Linked DNA regions of Homo sapiens. The protein of the gene in region 1 binds, or shares a complex with, the protein of each later gene. Each region holds a gene or a part of one and is shown on either strand. Other genes may lie near its edges. A codon is read from its position in the direction of its gene.

Region 1 (7,031 bases):
AGTGCTAGGGGTACAGAGCTGTCACCTCAGTAGCAGAGGGAAAAGGTTACTTGTAAAAGAAAAAGGTATCTACTCAGGTCTGGAACTGTTGGCAAGAAAATCTTTCTGAATGTAGTTCTTTGAACTCATTCATTTAGATAGAAAAAATCTGCATCAAAATTTTTTCTCCCTGATACCTTTACATAGAAAAATACTCAACATTTAGAATTTCCTACCTCTCTTCACTTGAGAGTGTTATTAGACTTAGGTGCAAGAAAGGAAAACTTACCGAGAATGACTTAAGTATAAAGCTTGACGATGAATATCTTCTGGGTCTATTTCTACAGGATTTATTACAGCTAGTTGATCAATAGACCATCTAAATTTCCCTGGAGTCTTAACAAAAGAAAGTGAGCTTATGAGTAAAGGCAAACTAAAATAGTTCATCAAAATGCTAACCTATGTGAGAAATAATATGAATGGTTATAATATGAAAATATTTTAAAGCTTGTATTTTAAAATTTGACTTTACCATGAAATTAAATGGCAAAGGGTAATCATATCACATTCGATCAACTGACTTAATTGTATCTCTCTCTCTCTTTGTTTAAGACAGAGTCTCGTTCTGTCACCGAGGCTGGAGTGCACTGGTGTAATCTCAGCTCACTGCAACCTCCACCTCCCCGGTTCAAGCGATTCTCCTGCCTCAGCCTCCTGAGTAGCTGGGATTACAGGCACCCGCCACCACACCCAGCTAATTTTTGTATTTTTTTTTTTTTTTTTTTTTTAGTAGAGATGGGGTTTCACCATGTTGGCCAGGCTGGTCTCAAACTCCTGACTTCAAGTCATCAGCCCACCTTGGCAGTGCTGGGATTACAGGCATGAGCCACAGCGCCCAGCCTGTATCTCTTTTAAAATATCAGAATCTTTCACCTGGGTTGGAATTACGTAATACGAGAAAAATCACAACAGAGTAATAAAGATATAAAACTTTCACAATTAACACTCATCAGTGTGATAAACTAAGCCCATGTAAAAGTAAAAATCTCTCACAGTTAACAAACGTCTTTACTTTCACTAAGAAGGAACTGAAATTAAAGTCCTTAGTCACTTTGGAGGTGGCTGCAAAAGCTCACAACATAGTTGATCCTTAAAATAATTATGAATGGCAACCAGTGCTGCCTTTCTGTACTCAACCATGCAACTGAATTAAAGGTTTATCCAAATCCTAATCTGTAATTAGAAATATATTCTAGGCAAATTCAGTCCTAAAAACGCAAGATGCCATACATTCCAACTTTGAGGATTAAGCTGCCGTCAATCTATTATTTATTTTTAGTAAGACCAAGAGATAAATTTTAATGATTCAATTAAAAATCATAAGGTCAGATTGATGAAATGACTCAATATAAACTGCTCGACCTTCCACTAGTACATACTTGCTCATTGTAAAACCTGTATGAAAGTGTAGCAGAAACAGCCACCCTATTTGCAGTTTTTCTAAGTAACTTGGTAGGTTGAAAGATCCAAGGTCAAAAGAACTTATCCAGTGTAGCAAATAACAGTAAAATAAGATAAAGTGGCCCGGGCATGGTGGCTCATGCCTGTAATCCCAGCACTTTGGGAGGCTGAAGTGGGTGCATCACATGAGGTCAGGAGTTCGAGATCAGCCTGGCCAACATGGTGAAATCCCATCTCTACCAAAAAAAAAAAAAAGATAAAGTGATGAAGCCTTTTCTAATATCCTGAAGAACACTTTTCCTTCATATTACTATTGTCCTAAGTACTAATCATATCACCTATCACACTGCCTTGATATTACTCATCTAGTTCTGTTTAACACATTAAAATAGGGGTTAGTTTCTTTTTATAATAGATTGCAAGCTAAGAATTATTTTGACAGTTTCAAATGGTTGGGAAAACAAACAAAAAAATATCTTGTGACATGTGAAAATTATATGAAATTCAAATGTGTCCATAAATAAAGCTGTATTGGAACAGAGTAACATTTATCTCTTTACACATTGCCTATGGCTGCTTTTGTGATACAAGACAGAAGTGAGTAGTTGTGACAGAGACCAAATGACCTGTAAAGCTTAAATATTTACTGTCTGGCCCCTAACAGAAAGTTTGTGACCCATACATCGGAGTATAACCTCCTTAAGGATTTGTGCCTAATGATCCTAACTTGTTCACAGTGTAATCCCTGCTTAGCACTGTATCTGACACATAGCAACACTCAAATAATGTTTGCCAAATAAGTGAGAACAGAATATTAGATGATGCAGCTTCTTCTCTAATGTATTAGTAGCTATATCGTCAACCACAGAATGTAGCTACACCCACAACTGCAGGAAGCTAACGTATGTTCTTGAACTTAAAAAAAAAAAAATCTTCTAGCTAACTTATTAACCTAACCACTAGATTATAATGAACACTACAATTTAAAAAAGTATATTGCAGCTATATATGCTCCATAATGTATTTCCTCCTTACCTTGTAAAGACAGATGTTTACATTTAAAATTATTTGTAATTACTTACATTTAAAATTAGTTGTAAACACTAGTCAGGAATAACTTACTGGTAATTTTGTTGATTTAAAAACAGAAGGACTGGCGAGAGTTTGTTCATGGAGATTAGAATAATCACTAGGACTTTCAAAAGGATTTAAAACAGGGATCCTTCCTGGAGTTTCTGGTGTTATTTGCATCTTTGATTCCTTGACATCTCCCATAGCACAGAGAGAAAACTAAAAAGAAATCAAGAGTATGCATGTTAAAATTACAAAGTCCCATAGATATTAATTTTAACTATTAAAATGTACTCGACAAATGTGTCACAAAAAACAACTCAAAACCTCACACTCTTGGGGCTATGATACAGCTTACAAAAAAAGTATCACATATAAATGTTCTCAACTGATCCTCGAAACAACCTTGAAAGCTATAGCAGTAACTTACTAGTGATATTATTTTGCGAAAGTATTAAGCTCAGAGAAGTGAAGTGGCTTATACGCAGCAATCAAATATGAATGAATTCAGATCTGCCTCTGAGGAAACTAAAGGTTACAACAGGCCCAGATCTCTTCTCAACTAAAGGACTTATAGCTACAATTTTTTTTAAATTCATCATCTCATGTCTCAACACTATGAACATTCTTCGGATACCCTATCCAACTACAGTTGCTATTAAACAATTCTTTGTAGCAAGCAGGTAAGAGATGAGGAAGCTTGTGCCTTTCTTGCACATGAGTCCTAGCCAGAGAAGTATGATTGACAGGGGCTAGGAAATTAACTGCCTGGGGTCCCCTTTCCTCCAAAAATCCTCCTTTCGCCAAGACCTCCCCTCCACCCCTCCCGGGATAGAAAGGGAGACTGCATTACTTGCAATCAAAGGAGGCTACAGAGGCTACACCTTGGCGGGGTGGGGTGGAAAAGAGTCTACTTCTGGAAGGTTGAGATGCAGCCGGCTTCCCTGGATGGAGTGCGAAGGAGGCGTCGCCCCCAACCCTACGTGGCCACTCTTTCTGGTGCCCCTCTCTTCCACACCTACTCCCTGACTGCTCCCATTCACCAGGGGCGAGCGGGCAGGCAAGTCAGGAGCTGGGAAAAGAAACCTCTCCATTCAGACAGGAGGAAAGGCCAGGGACCACAAAGAGCGTACCTACCGGTGCGTACAAAACGAAGCCCCCAGTACCGACTCCAGGGAGCTCCGGGGGCCAGGCCAGCTTCCACGACAGGCATAGACTCTTTAACTCCCCGCTTCCGCGCTGTCTTGGGCCAACCAGGGCACGGGGCTTGTGAGCGACTAGCCAATCGTGTCGTCCCGCCATCCGCGAACCAGCCAATCGCACGGAGGCCGCGTAGGAAATTCGAATGGCAACTCCTCGCTCCACGTTCCGCGCAGAGGAACGTGGCTCCAAATTCAAATCAACGCAGCCTCACGCCGGCGGCGAGCGCGAGGGGCGGAGCCTGCCCGGCGTGGGCCGAGACGCGCTGTGTGATTGCCTCGGAGAGAGGAAGGCGCTCCAGTTCCGGGTCAGGCCCTTCTCCCGCCTCCCTCGGCCTTAGCCATGGCGAGTAGCAGCGGTGCTGGGGCGGCGGCGGCGGCCGCGGCGGCGAATCTGAATGCGGTGCGGGAGACCATGGACGGTGAGTTTCCGTTGCGCTCCCTTTACCTTGCGTGCCTTCCCAGAGCCAAGGCCCCCAGGCGGGAATGAGCCTGGGGAGGACTTCAGGTCCCCTTAGTGCCCCAAACGGCATCTTCCAAGATCTTTGGTAGGGACCTGCCAGGGCCGCAGGGCTGATGGCCCTATCCCTTGAGAGTTGTCTCCGCCGCTGCGTAGTTTGTCGCGCGCGCTAGGCGTTGCGGCCCCTAGTCAGCCGGTTGCGCACCGCGTCCCTCTCGCGCGAATGCCGCGCCCCCTCTATCCCGCATCCCAGGTCCGCCCTACCCGCCCGATCTCCTGCGGTGACAGCGTCACGCCCACCCCACCCAGTACACCCGTTCCCTCCTGCGTGCCGCGTCCCACCCGATTCCCGCCCGGGGCGCTTCGGGGGTCCCCAAGGTTGGGATCCCGGCGGGGACAGGGGCCAGGTGTTTGGTCACCGCTATGCCTCCTGTTCTTCGCACTTAAGTAGGCACCTTTAATATCCGGCGAATGAACAAGTTCCCCTTTGGTCATAATTATCCTAGTTTCCTCTTGAAGCGGGTGACACCAGTGCCCAAGTGCTATGGTGTCGCCTGTTTTCGGCCCCGGAGGCACGTGTGTGTGAAGCCTACACAAGTGTTGCAGAACACGAAATTTGTGTCTTGCGGTTACCCTCTGTCTACCCTCTAATGTCGGTTCTGCCACTTTATGCCCCTGTGGTGAGCTTGGACTAGATACTTAAACATCATTGAGCCTGTTTAGTTTTTTTTTTTTTTTTTTCTGTAAAATAAAACCCTACCTCCAGGAGTTGTGAATATTTAAATAAGACAACCATGTAAAAACATATCAAAGATGATCAATTATTTTTATATTATTTCAGATGGCCTCTCTCTTGTAGTCTTCTTTCTTTGTCTCCTTTTTACTCACATCCACCTGTATTATGAGTGTTTGATCGATGTTGTTATTTGCAGTGGGCCTAGACGTTTTCCAGGGTCTACTCACGTCAGCTTCCGTCTCTGTTAAAAGATAACCCTATGAAATTCTCACTGCTGTATCTCTCTCTCCTTCACCGTAGGCTCTTTTTTTCTTTTTTGAGACACAGTCTTGCTGTAGTTGCCCAGGGTGGAGTGCAATGGCGCAACCTCGGCTCACTGCAACCTCCGCCTCCCGGGTTCAGGCGATTCTCCTGCCTCAGCCTCTGGAGTAGCTGGGATTACAGGTGCCCGCCAGAACACCCGGCTAATTTTTTGTATTTTTAGTAGAGACGGAGTTTCCCCATGTTGGCCAGGTTGGTCTCGAACTCCTGACTTCAGGTGATCCACATGCCTCGGCCTCCCAAAATGCTAGGATTACAGGCGTGAGCCACCATGCCCGGCCTCATTTTCTTATGTAGCACTTGCAGAGGGGCTGCTGGCTTTTTCTGCACTGGTCCTGGTTTTCTTTTCAAAGAATTACACTTTTAGAGCCTTTGCATCTAATTTTTCACTTGTTCAGTATCTACCTTGCTGTTTTTCTGAGAATGTTACTCTTAATATTCAGCTTATTTTTCTATCCTTTTCGATGTATCAACACTTAATAGTTTTATTTTGTAAGTGGATTTATGTATGAATATATATATGTGTGTGTATATAAATATAAATTTACTGTCTTGTATATTTCCTTGGAAAAAGGTAGAGTATAAGACCTCACTTCTAGCCTATTTTCTTAGGTTAGCTGTACTTAGGTTCCTTATGTATATGGCCACAGGATCCCATTTGAACAGAAAACTCACATTTTCTCTGGTGGAATCACTGATGTACAATTGAGAACTGATGGTTTGTGTTGGCTGCATCATCAAGATCTCTTCTGAGAAAACTTGGTGTGAAATGAAGATTATAAAGAGAGTAAGAACACAAAAAAGTGAAGTAAAACAAAAAATGAAGGAGAGGGGATGTGGTGTTACACAGTATTTAAATCAACCCGTGAGATCAAAAATAAAATTTTCAAAACTTTTTGAATACCATTTCTCCCCTCAATGGTAGCATTTGTGAACCTCCCTTTAAGTCATGTGAATTGCAGAACTCTTGGCTACATTTGCATTTTGATCATGAAATGAAAGGATTTTGTTAAAGACATGGAAGGAAGCAGGCTAACTTTCTATTAATAAATTATCTGTGCACCTCACTCTGAAAAGAACTATCTCTGCCAATTTAGAATAAGGTCTGCATGAGATCTCTGCTTTCATCCTTATATCCCTAAAATTCTACACGCTTAAAATAGTCGTGCCTTTTCAACAACACCCCCCTCGCAACCCACTGTGTATGGTTGCCTCTTTTGCTTTTCAACTTTTTGGTATGTTAGGTACTCTCTATTGATTGCTTTTTATACCTTAATTTTTATTTTCCTCTAAAATCGTCCTGTGCATCTGAATTTTAATTTTGATAATTATTCCTTATGAGAGGCTTTATCATAGCACTATTTTTTTTTTTTTTTTGAGACCGAGTCTGGCTGGAGTGCAGTGGCGCGACCTTGGCTCACTGCAACCTCCGCCTCCCAGGTTGAAGCTGGGGATGGGAACCAATTCTCCTGCCTTGGCCTCTGGAGTAACTAGGATTATAGGCGCCCGCCACCACGCCCAGCTAATTTTTGTATTTTTAGTAGAGACAGGGTTTCACCATGTTGGCCAGTCTGGTCTGGAACTCCTGACCTCAGGTGATCCACCCGCCTCAGCCTCCCAAAGTGCTGGGATTATAGGCGTGAGCCACTGTGCCCGGCCTGTAGCACCACTTTACATATATATATGTGTATATATATATATATATATATGTATATATATATATATATTTAGTAGTAAGTACGGGTGCCTGTAATCCCAGCTACTTGGGAGGCTGAGGCAGGAGAATCGCTTGAACCTGGGAGGC
Region 2 (7,644 bases), on another chromosome or scaffold:
CCAGCCCCCAGCACTTCCGGCCAGCTGGGGTTATGATGGCCCCACAGCACCTCTGGCCAGGTGGGGTTATGATGACCCCCCAGCACCTCTGGCCAGGTGAGGTTATGATGTCCCCCCAGCACCCCTGGCCAGGTGGGGTTATGAAATCCCCCCCAGCACCTCTGGCCAGGTGACATTTATGAAGTCACCCCCAGCACCTCTGGCCAGGTGGGGTTATGATGGCCCCACAGCACCGCTGGCCAGGTGGGGTTATGATGGCCCCCCAGCATCTCTGGCCAGGTGTGATTATGATATCCCCTAGCACCTCTGGCCAGGTGAGGTTATGATGTCCCCCCAGCACCTCTGGCCAGGTGGGGTTATGAAATCCCCCGCAGCACCTCTGGCCAGGTGACATTTATGAAGTCACCCCCAGCAACTCTGGCCAGGTGGGGTTATGAAGTTCCCCCCGCCCCCCGGCACCTCCGGCCAGCTGGGGTTATGATGGCCCCACAGCACCTCTGGCCAAGTGGGATTATGACCCCCCCAGCACCTCTGGCCAGGTGGGGTTATAATACCCCCCCACAGCACCTCTGGCCAGGTGAGGTTATGATGTCCCCCCAGCACCTCTGGCCAGGTGTGGTTATGAAGTCCTCCTGGCACCTCTGGCCAGGTGTGATTATGAAGTCCCACTAGCACCTCTGGCCAGGTGGGGTTATGAAATCTCCCCCAGCACCTCTGGCCAGCTGTGGTTATGAAATCCCCCCCAGCACCTCTGGCCTGGTGACATTTATGAAGTCACCCCCAGCACCTCCGGCCAGGTAGGGTTAGGAAGTTCCCCCCGCCCCCCAGCACCTCCGGCCAGGTGGGGTTATGATGTCCCCCCAGCATCTCTGGCCAGGTGGGATTATGATATCCCCCTAGCACCTCTGGCCAGGTGAGGTTATGATGTCCCCCCAGCACCTCTGGCCAGGTTGGGTTATGAAATCCCCCCAGCACCTCTGGCCAGGTGACATTTATGAAGTCACCCCCAGCACCTCTGGCCAGGTGGGGTTATGAAGTTCCCCCCGCCCCCCAGCACCTCTGGCAGGTGGGGTTATGATGTCCCCCCAGCATCTCTGGCCAGGTGGGATTATGATACCCCCCAGCACCTCTGGCCAGGTGAAGTTATGATGTCCCCCCAGCACCTCTGGCCAGGTGGGGTTATGAAGTCCCCCAGGACCTCTGGCCAGGTGGGGTTATGAAGTCCCCCCCAGCACCTCTGGCCAGGTGGGGTTATGAAATCCCCTCCAGCACCTCTGGCCAGGTGACATTTATGAAGTCACCCCTAGCACCTCTGTCCGGGTAGGGTTATGAAATTCCCCCTGCCCCCAGCACCTCCGGCCAGCTGGGGTTATGATGGCCCCACAGCACCTCTGGCCAGGTGGGGTTATGATGTCCCCCCAGCATCTCTGGCCAGGTGGGATTATGATACCCCCCAGCACCTCTGGCCAGGTGAGGTTATGATGTCCCCCAGCACCTCTGGCCAGGTGGGGTTATGAAGTCCTCCCGGCACCTCTGGCCAGGTGTGGTTATGAAGTCCCCCGCAGCACCTCTGGCCAGGTGGGGTTATGAAATCCCCCCCAGCACCTCTGGCCAGGTGACAGTTATGAAGTCACCCCCAGCACCTCTGGCCAGGTGGGGTTATGAAGTTCCCCCCGCCCCCCAGCACCTCCGGCCAAGTGGGGTTATGATGGCCCCAGAGCACCTCTGGCCAGGTGGGATTATGATGTCCCCCAGCACCTCTGGCCAGGTGGGGTTATGATGTCCCCCCTGGCACCTCTGGCCAGGTGGGGTTATGATGTCCCCCAGCACCTCTGGCCAGGTGGGGTTATGAAGTCCCACCGGCACCTCTGGCCAAGTGTGGTTATGACGTCCCCCCCAGCACCTCTGGCCAGGTGGGGATATAATACCCACCCCCAGCACCTCTGGCCAGGTGAGGTTATGATGTCCCCCCGGCACCTCTGGCCAGGTGTGGTTATGATGTCCCCCCGGTACCTCTGGCCAGGTGTGGTTATGAAGTCCCCCCGGCACCTCTGGCCAGGTGGGGTTATGAAGTCCCACCGGCACCTCTGGCCAGGTGTGGTTATGATGCCCCCCCGGCACCTCTGGCCAGGTGTGGTTATGAAGTCCTCCCGGCACCTCTGGCCAGGTGGGGTTATGAAGTCCCCCCGGCACCTCTGGCCAGGTGGGGTTATGAAATCCCCCCCAGCACCTCTCGCCAGGTGACATTTTGAAGTCACCCCCAGCACCTCTGGCCAGGTGGGGTTAAGAAGTTCCCCCCGCCGCCCAGCACCTCTGGCCAGGTGGGGTTATGATGGCCCACCAGGACCTCCTGCCAGCTGGGGTTATGATGGCCCCACAGCACCTCTGTCGAGGTAGGATTATGATACCCCCCAGCACCTCTGGCCAGGTGGGGTTATAATACCCCCCCACAGCACCTCTGGCCAGGTGAGGTTATGATGTCCCCCCAGCACCTCTGGCCAGGTGTGGTTATGAAGTCCTCCTGGCACCTCTGGCCAGGTGTGGTTATGAAGTCCCCCCAGCACCTCTGGCCAGGTGGGGTTATGAAATCTCCCCCAGCACCTATGGCCAGCTGTGGTTATGAAATCCCCCCCAGCACCTCTGGCCAGGTGACATTTATGAAGTCACCACCAGCACCTCTGGCCAGGTGGGGTTATGAAGTTCCCCCCGCCCCCCAGCACCTCCGGCCAGGTGGGGTTATGATGTCCCCCCAGCATCTCTGGCCAGGTGGGATTATGATATCCCCCTAGCACCTCTGGCCAGGTGAGGTTAAGATGTCCCCCCAGCACCTCTGGCCAGGTTGGGTTATGAAATCCCCCCAGCACCTCTGGCCAGGTGACATTTATGAAGTCACCCCCAGCACCTCTGGCCGGGTGGGGTTATGAAGTTCCCCCCGCTCCCCAGCACCTCCGGCCAGCTGGGGTTATGATGGCCCCACAGCACCTCTGGCCAAGTGGGGTTATGATGTCCCCCCAGCATCTCTGGCCAGGTGGGATTATGATACCCCCCAGCACCTCTGGCCAGGTGAGGTTATGATGTCCCCCCAGCACCTCTGGCCAGGTGGGGTTATGAAATCCCCCCCAGCACCTCTGGCCAGGTGACATTTATGAAGTCACCCCCAGCACCTCTGGCCAGGTGGGGTTAAGAAGTTCCCCCCGCCCCCCAGCACCTCCGGCCAGCTGGGGTTATGATGGCCCCACAACACCTCTGGCCAGGTGGGGTTATGATGTCCCCCCAGCATCTCTGGCCAGGTCAGATTATGATACCCCCCAGCACCTCTGGCCAGGTGAGGTTATGATGTCCCCCCAGCACCCCTGGTCAGGTGGGGTTATGAAATCCCCCCCAGCACCTCTGGCCAGGTGACATTTATGAAGTCACCCCCAGCACCTCTGGCCAGGTGGGGTTACGAAGTTCCCCCCGCCCCCCAGCACCTCCGGCCAGGTGGGGTTATGATGGCCCCACAGCACCTCTGGCCAGGTGGGGTTATGATGGCCCCCCAGCATCTCTGGCCAGGTGGGATTATGATACCCCCTAGCACCTCTGGCCAGGTGAGGTTATGATGTCCCCCCAGCACCTCTGGCCAGGTGGGGTTATGAAGTTCCCCCCGCCCCCCGGCACCTCCGGCCAGCTGGGGTTATGATGTCCCCCCAGAATCTCTGGCCAGGTGGGATTATGATATCCCCCTAGCACCTCTGGCCAGGTGAGGTTAAGATGTCCCCCCAGCACCTCTGGCCAGGTTGGGTTATGATGGCCCCACAGCACCTCTGGCCAGGTGGGATTATGATACCCCCTAGCACCTCTGAGCAGGTGAGGTTATGATGTCCCCCCAGCACCTCTGTCCAGGTGTGGTTATGAAGTCCTCCCGGCACCTCTGGCTAGGTGTGGTTATGAAGTCCCCCCAGCACCTCTGGCTAGGTGGGGTTATGAAATCTCCCCCACCACCTCTGGCCAGGTGACATTTATGAAGTTCCCCCCCTCAGCACCTCTGGCCAGGTGGGGTCATGAAGTCCCCCAAGCCGCCCCTGAGGAACAGGCGAGGCAAGGGCCAGCAGGCACTACTAGCGGGTCGGGACAGCTGCTTCGCTGATGCTGGTTGTGTAGCATGGATGTGTGTAGCGTGACTGTGTTGTGTGGATGGGGCACGGAAATCCGCAGAGACCATCACTGGAGGGAGAAGCTGCAGGGCCGGGAGGGTTCAGCAGGTAAGCAGTTCAGGGTTCCTGGAAAGGCGGGTCCCAATGCATTTGCTGACCGGGCACCTAACGGGCTGCTCTCAAAATCACTGACTGTCACCGAGGCCGGCCAGAGACCCTTATGTATCTGATTCACGATGACACCAGCTAACTCTGAGTACAGTAGAAAACGTACCGTCGGGCAACCAGAAAATGCGCACTCCAGTCCCCACCACGGGACAGCGCCAGGCAGTACCCTCCACAGCCGGAGCTCGAACTGTCGCGAGAATAGCGGTCGGCTTGGAAGTCGCCCGGCGCGGGAGCGCGAACTCTCGCGAGAATGCCGCCAGCTCCGGAGGCGACTGCGGCAGGAGCCCGAGCTCTCGCGCGACAGGCACCAATTCGTTAGACGCGCGCTGCAGGAGCGCGGAACATGGCGCGGCACGGGCCACCGTGGAGTCGGTTGGACGCGCAGCAGGAGCGCGACGTGCGGGAGCTCGTCCGGGGTGTCGCCGGCCTCCAGGACGAGGCAGACCCCAACTTCCAGCTCGCCCTAAACTTCGCCTGGTCCAACTTCAGGTGTGGGGCACGGCGCGCGGGCGGGTTCCCGGCCACAGCCCGGAGCCCGCGCGTGGGTCCCGCACAGCCCGGGGTCGGGGCGCGCTGGGGCAGGGCATGGGGCGGAGGCGGGCGCGGCCTCAGGGAGCCTTCGCAGGCCCTGCCACCGCCTGCTCCCCGCCGGCCAGCGCTCTCGGCGCGGTGCCCTGCGCACCACAGGGCGTGTTACCCGGGACGCGTCCTGATCGTCACGGGGAAAGCGTGAACTGGGTTTCTTGCCGGCCGGCGCGCGCGCCTGCAACCCCAGCGCTCTGGGAGGCCCAGGCGGGACTCCAGGCCAGCTTGGGCAACGTAGCAACTCCATGTTTATAATTTTTTTTTTTTTTAAATTAAAGAGATTGTATTCTCACTGACTCCTGCTCCCTGGTCAGCCCAGTGTAAGATCTCTCACCCTGCTCTCCTTTTTCCAAAACGCGTGTCATGACACTGATTTAACCTGTCATTACTGTCTCCTCCACTTCCACTCCAGCTAGAATGCTGCATCTCTGCACAGCTCCTGGCACGTAGCACGCTGAGTCACCTAATACAATTTCTAATGCAGTTTCTCTTGTAACTAATTTTTAAAGACTTACAGAATTTAGATATTTACGTAAAGTGAGATCTCCTATTTTTCTTTATGGGAGATGTAAATTAATACTTTTAGAGTCATTACCCATAATGAAATTATTACTAAAAAAATGTTAATGTTAATATTCTACCTGTTTAATTTCAGTAAAAATCTTCTTGAATAATGAACAGTTTTTCAAAATCCGTAATCTTAGTTACCTTAATGATCATAGCCATAAAGTGTCTAGTTGGCTTATAATAGGAATACGGGGCTTTCAGATTCTTTTAAACCATGCCAAGTTTCTGAAGTAATAAACTGAATTCTTAAGTGTAACTTATAAAAATAAACAATGTGTGAAATAGGTTATACAATACAGAAACTTAAATGCTGAAATCCAAGTTATTTTTCTACTAATATTTCTAAATGACAGTAGGCAGATTGTCATCATTTTAGAGCTGGGAGAGACGTTGGAGGTTACTATTTTCATTCACAGATTTCAGGAACTAAATTATAATAGGTAAAGTGGTGTTCCATTCACCCATTTACTGGCCTAGAATCATGTGTTTTTCAGTAGTGTAATTTTATTTAAGTACAGATTGCTCGCTTTGATACTAAAAAATGGAAAACATTTTTTGCATAGGCTATGCTATGTACATATACATTAGTTGCATAGGCTGTGCTGTAATTTTATGATGCTTTAAACCATCAGAAAAATGAATAGTTCATGTTTACATTCTTGAAAATTGTGGACTGGGCGCGGTGGCTCACGCCTGTAATCCCAGCACTTTAGGAGGCCGAGGTGGGTGGATCACGAGGTCAGGAGATCGAGACTATCCTGGCTAACACGGTGAAACCCGGTCTCTACTAAAAGTACAAAAAATTAGCCGGGCGTGGTGGCAGGCGCCTGTAGTCCCAGCTACTTGGGAGGCTGAGGCAGGAGAATGGCGCGAACCCAGGAGGCGGAGCTTGCACTGAGCAAGCTCACTTTTCTCTAACTGAAAAGTAGCATCTCCTTCTATTATGAATGAAGGCAGCAAACCATAGCAGTATTAGCCTACCTATGACTTTATCACCAGTAGAAATCGCATACTGTTTTCACATCAGAGTTGTAGATATTTGTAAATGTTGTTTACTGTTACTTTAATGGTAGTTAATTGGACCTACTGCTAAATCTTGTTATTTAATACTTTCATAAATAACATTTCTTGCCATATCTTAAACTTCTTTAAATATTTGACAACTGTATCTCAGTATAATGGGATTCCTTTGTATTTATTTTTTGGCTTTAAAAATGTTATTCAGAGAAGGGGTCCTTAGGCTTCACCGGGCCTCACTATGGCATAAAAAGGTTGGGACCACCTGATGTAGAATGTGTTCAGCTGGACTTAGGTACAGGGGCTTATGGGAAGACAGAGGAGCCAGAGGACAAGGTTGGGAGGGTCAGGAAGAACCTGTGTGCTGGAGAAAGGATGCTTGCACAGTCTCGGACACGGTGATTATTTGCCTGCCTGATGGTGGAGGTAACGGAGGACAAGGTACACTCCATTCTGGAAATGTGTAGCTGAGTACAGAGCATATGGGGGATATGGAGGGCCATGAGATGAGTTCACTTACCTGTGTGACAGAGTTGGCATAAGAATTGCATTTTGTCTTTAATAGATTTCATCGTTTCTTGGATGTCAACAGCCACAAAATAGAAAAAACAATCGAAGGGTAAGTCAGTGTGTATATATACGCATCCAGAAATATATGTATTTTCTTATAGATCTTTTTAAGATAGCTTTATAATCTTTTCTTATATTTTAGAATTTATGAAAAATTTGTCATTCATTCTGATCTAAGCAAAGCTGCTAGTTGGAAGAGATTAACGGAGGAATTTCTAAATGCACCACTTCCCAGTATAAAGGAAATAAAGGTATGCCTTCAATTATGAGATCTCCACTGTGTATTTTACTGTTTCCTATCTGATTATCGTCAATTTGTTTCAGTTACTGTTTAAACATTCTATTTTAGTATTATCTACTGGCTAACGGGATCTCTTGGAAATTTACTTAAATATTGCCATCAAACCAGATATGCCTCAGTTTGTGATGAAAGAAAGAGCTTGTTTTTAATCATTTTTTCACCTCAGTCCTACTAAGGAAAGAGAGATCAGAGATTGATACAAATAGTAGCATTGTTTGGGTATCTCAAAACTTTCAAATGGTTTCTCAGCACTTGGCAGTGACTGTCTGTAGATGCTTACTAGATGCCTGGTATACTTTCATA
Region 3 (2,678 bases), about 40 Mb from region 1:
TATTTTGGCAATATAACTTCTTAGGCGTGTTCTTCTTCCCTCACCTAAAAAGGCAGTGATACACACACACACACACACAGACACACACACACACACACACACACACACATACACAGTGTTTGCCTGCTCAGAGGTGAAGTTACTTTATCAACACAGCAGAGCCTGTGCCCAGGCCTGCCTGTGAGCTTCAGCATTCGTGTTTCTGACCAGAAGCTGGGAAGGGGCAGTGACAGCTGGTGAAGACTTGGGCGGGGCTTGGTGAGGACGCAGTGCCTCAGTGAGTTTTCTCTGCAGATGAGGCCTTTCCAGGCCAGCAGTTCTGTGAACAGATCAGCACCCCGTGGCATGCAGCAGGCTCCAGCACTGGGCGGGGATGGGCCTGTACTCAGTATGCAAGTCTTTCAGCCTGAAATAGAAGCAGCCAGTCCTTTCGTCTTATCAGAGTTAGGGGAAACTTCTGTCACATCTTTAAAAACGCCCTCAGTAACAGGATGATGGCGATGCCAGTGCCCATGAAGAGGGCGGCTGCAGCCTCACGTCCAGCAGCTAGACCCAAAGACCCGACTGATGCTCTCAATTTGTTCTCCAGCAAGGGCTCTAGGATGAAATCCTCTTTCATGAGTCATATGAAAGATGAAATATGTGGCACTGAGTTTTGTATTCAAAATAGAATGTTCTAACATCTGTTACTTTGCTGTTTTGCTTATTCTTGTGGAACTTAAGAACAAAGTGAAAAAACCTGTTGGTTAGTTGTTTTCAAATCAAATGTATTCTTCACTAATTTGTCCTTGTAAAAGGGCGCCCATTCCTAATGCAGGTGCACTGGCCGTGTGCACTCCAGGGTCCCAGCAGCTCTTGCTCCCTGGACACCTGCCCTGGTGGGCATTTACTAAGGGCCTGTTGATCTGGAAGGAAAAACAGACCCAACCCAAAGGAGATTAAGGTCCGGGGAATACGTTTGTGGGTTGTTCTTTTCTGAAACAATATTTTACTCCTTTTGCTTCTTTTTAGGGTATCGTGCAGCAGTTTTTGGTGTTACTGACGACCAGCTCTGACGAGAGTCTTCGGTTTCTTAGCTTCAGGCTGGACTTCAACGAGCATTACAAAGCCAGGGAGCCCAGGCTCCGTGTGTCTCTGGGTACCAGGGGGCGGCGCAGCTCCCACACGTGAAGCTCGCGGTCCTCCCAGGGAGCTGCGGGTGATGTTCGTTGCACTGCTAGACACGAAATTCCCATTGACGTCCTGCAGGAACTGCATGCTGCAGGTGTCCTGCCCTTCCGCCCACGAGTGCGCCATGTTTCAGCGGAGCGGCGTGTGGGAGAAGCCACGTCGTGTTTCACATGTCGGAGTCGAATGCATTTGTAAATCCCTAAGTCAAGTAGGCTGGCTGCACTGTTCACATTTGTCTCTAAAAGTCTTCATCGCTAAAAGATACCATAATTTGCTGAGGCTTCTTAAGCTTTCTATGTTATAATTTATATTTGTCACTTTAAAAAATCCATTTCTTTTAGAAAAAATTAGGGTGATAGGATATTCATTAGTTAAGATGGTAACGTCATTGCTATTTTTTTAACATCCTCTTTAGAGGTAATTTTTGTTAACATAACCAAAAATTAAATTGAAACAAAATGTCCCAACTAAGAAAATATATAGAGCATTTTATTTTTTTTTAGTGTTGTAAAATATTAACCTCTGTGAGATCCTTTGTATCTTAATGCATTACCTTTACACATATTTATTCTTATTTTCTCTCCTTTCAGAGTTTACATTTTTATATTTAATTTACTATTTCAGATTTTTAAAATAGTATAGAAAAAAGTAGGAGTGATAGAGAACAAAAATACTCTTATACAGTGCAACCCAAATACCGCGAATGCATCAGCTAAAGCAGCGTGTAAATAGGAGTGACGAGAAAGTTAATGGAGTATTTTATTTTCAAAGTTCCTGATAAGCATTGGAAAGAAATCGACATGGATAATGAAGATTTCCTTTTTCCTTGCCTATTTTTTCATTGTAAATATTTATATACTACTGACCAAGATGTTGGGGTGGGGGGGATTGTTTTTTGTAAAAATGTCATTATCAGGTCACATAAATCTGCCTTTATGTTGCATAAGTGAAAATTTAGAAAATTAAAAGCAATTATCTTTCAGATGCATTCGTTATTTCTTGAGTAGTTTATGAAGGGACAGTTTACTTGCTGGATTTGGGGGTTGAGGGTTGGTAGAATTTGATTTAATATAGTACAGCATATGAATTATTTAATCAGTGAAACCAGGAAAGTAGACTTTGTGTGACTTTTGGTATAGAAGCAAAGGCAATGTCACCGCTCAGGTCTCAGGAGCGGTGCTTTAGTTATCTGAATCCACCTCTGACTCCTTTAGGTGTGGATTACCTTTAAAACTAAAGGGGCTGTCAGGAATCCTGGCCATGCAGAAATGAATTCATGGCAAAGGCCAGAAATTCAATGTAATTTTAGTTTTGAAGTTCATAAAATCAGAAATTTGAAACAGGTTTTTCTACTGCAAGGTTTTTTAGAAATTATTGCATATTGTTTATCTCCACGAGAGGTTTACCAAGGTAATTGACCATGCAGCCAGCTTTTATTTTATTTTATTCAGAGAGTTGTTCCAGGGATTAATCCTCAGTAGAAACCACCCTAGCAAAGGCCCACCTCG

The links. The genes of interacting proteins can lie anywhere in the genome.
Region 2: the proteins of MZT1 (region 1) and TUBGCP5 are in contact, whole or in part, in a crystal structure (PDB 6L81), measured with the Homo sapiens proteins. Residues at the interface, in NP_001065243.1 of Homo sapiens: Glu23 (codon at 4,120), Val27, Leu28, Glu30, Ile31, Ser32, Ile34, Leu35, Asn36, Thr37, Leu39, Leu44, Ile46, Cys47, Val48, Arg49, Leu50, Cys51, Glu52, Gln53, Ile55, Asn56, Pro57, Glu58, Ala59, Leu60, Ser61, Ser62, Val63, Ile64; in NP_443135.3 of Homo sapiens: Gln14 (codon at 4,684), Gln15 (codon at 4,687), Asp18 (codon at 4,696), Val19 (codon at 4,699), Glu21 (codon at 4,705), Leu22 (codon at 4,708), Val23 (codon at 4,711), Val26 (codon at 4,720), Ala27 (codon at 4,723), Gly28 (codon at 4,726), Asn36 (codon at 4,750), Ala40 (codon at 4,762), Phe43 (codon at 4,771), Ala44 (codon at 4,774), Asn47 (codon at 4,783), Phe48 (codon at 4,786), Arg52 (codon at 7,043), Phe53 (codon at 7,046), Leu54 (codon at 7,049), Phe72 (codon at 7,196), Lys80 (codon at 7,220), Ser83 (codon at 7,229), Trp84 (codon at 7,232), Leu87 (codon at 7,241), Thr88 (codon at 7,244), Glu90 (codon at 7,250), Phe91 (codon at 7,253), Ala106, Ser109, Ile110.
Region 3: the proteins of MZT1 (region 1) and TUBGCP3 are in contact, whole or in part, in a cryo-EM structure (PDB 7QJD), measured with the Homo sapiens proteins. Residues at the interface, in NP_001065243.1 of Homo sapiens: Asn17 (codon at 4,102), Ala20 (codon at 4,111), Val21 (codon at 4,114), Glu23 (codon at 4,120), Thr24 (codon at 4,123), Val27, Leu28, Glu30, Ile31, Ser32, Arg33, Ile34, Leu35, Asn36, Thr37, Leu39, Asp40, Glu42, Thr43, Ile46, Cys47, Val48, Arg49, Leu50, Cys51, Glu52, Gln53, Gly54, Ile55, Asn56; in NP_006313.1 of Homo sapiens: Lys7, Pro9, Leu12, Leu13, Asn15, Leu16, Cys17, Arg19, Ile20, Leu21, Arg23, Val28, Gln31, Tyr34, Ala35, Val38, Ile39, Asn42, Phe43, Ala44, Pro45, Thr46, Ile58, Leu62, Arg67, Asp70, Phe74, Leu77, Lys80, Leu81.

Annotation. Positions count from the first base shown.
Region 1 is NC_000013.11:72,724,625-72,731,655, reverse strand, and holds the start of MZT1 (mitotic-spindle organizing protein 1), read left to right. Parts: upstream 1-4,026; 5' UTR 4,027-4,053; coding exon 4,054-4,132; intron 4,133-7,031. Other genes in the region: BORA (protein aurora borealis), read right to left, coding at 269-375, 2,563-2,715. UniProt on the Homo sapiens protein: Required for the recruitment and the assembly of the gamma-tubulin ring complex (gTuRC) at the centrosome.
Region 2 is NC_000015.10:23,036,544-23,044,187, reverse strand, and holds the start of TUBGCP5 (gamma-tubulin complex component 5), read left to right. Parts: upstream 1-4,618; 5' UTR 4,619-4,644; coding exon 4,645-4,790; intron 4,791-5,011; exon of another isoform or gene 5,012-5,206; intron 5,207-7,035; coding exon 7,036-7,089; intron 7,090-7,182; coding exon 7,183-7,291; intron 7,292-7,644. UniProt on the Homo sapiens protein: Component of the gamma-tubulin ring complex (gTuRC) which mediates microtubule nucleation.
Region 3 is NC_000013.11:112,484,485-112,487,162, reverse strand, and holds the end of TUBGCP3 (gamma-tubulin complex component 3), read left to right. Parts: intron 1-1,011; coding exon 1,012-1,170; 3' UTR 1,171-2,152; downstream 2,153-2,678. UniProt on the Homo sapiens protein: Component of the gamma-tubulin ring complex (gTuRC) which mediates microtubule nucleation.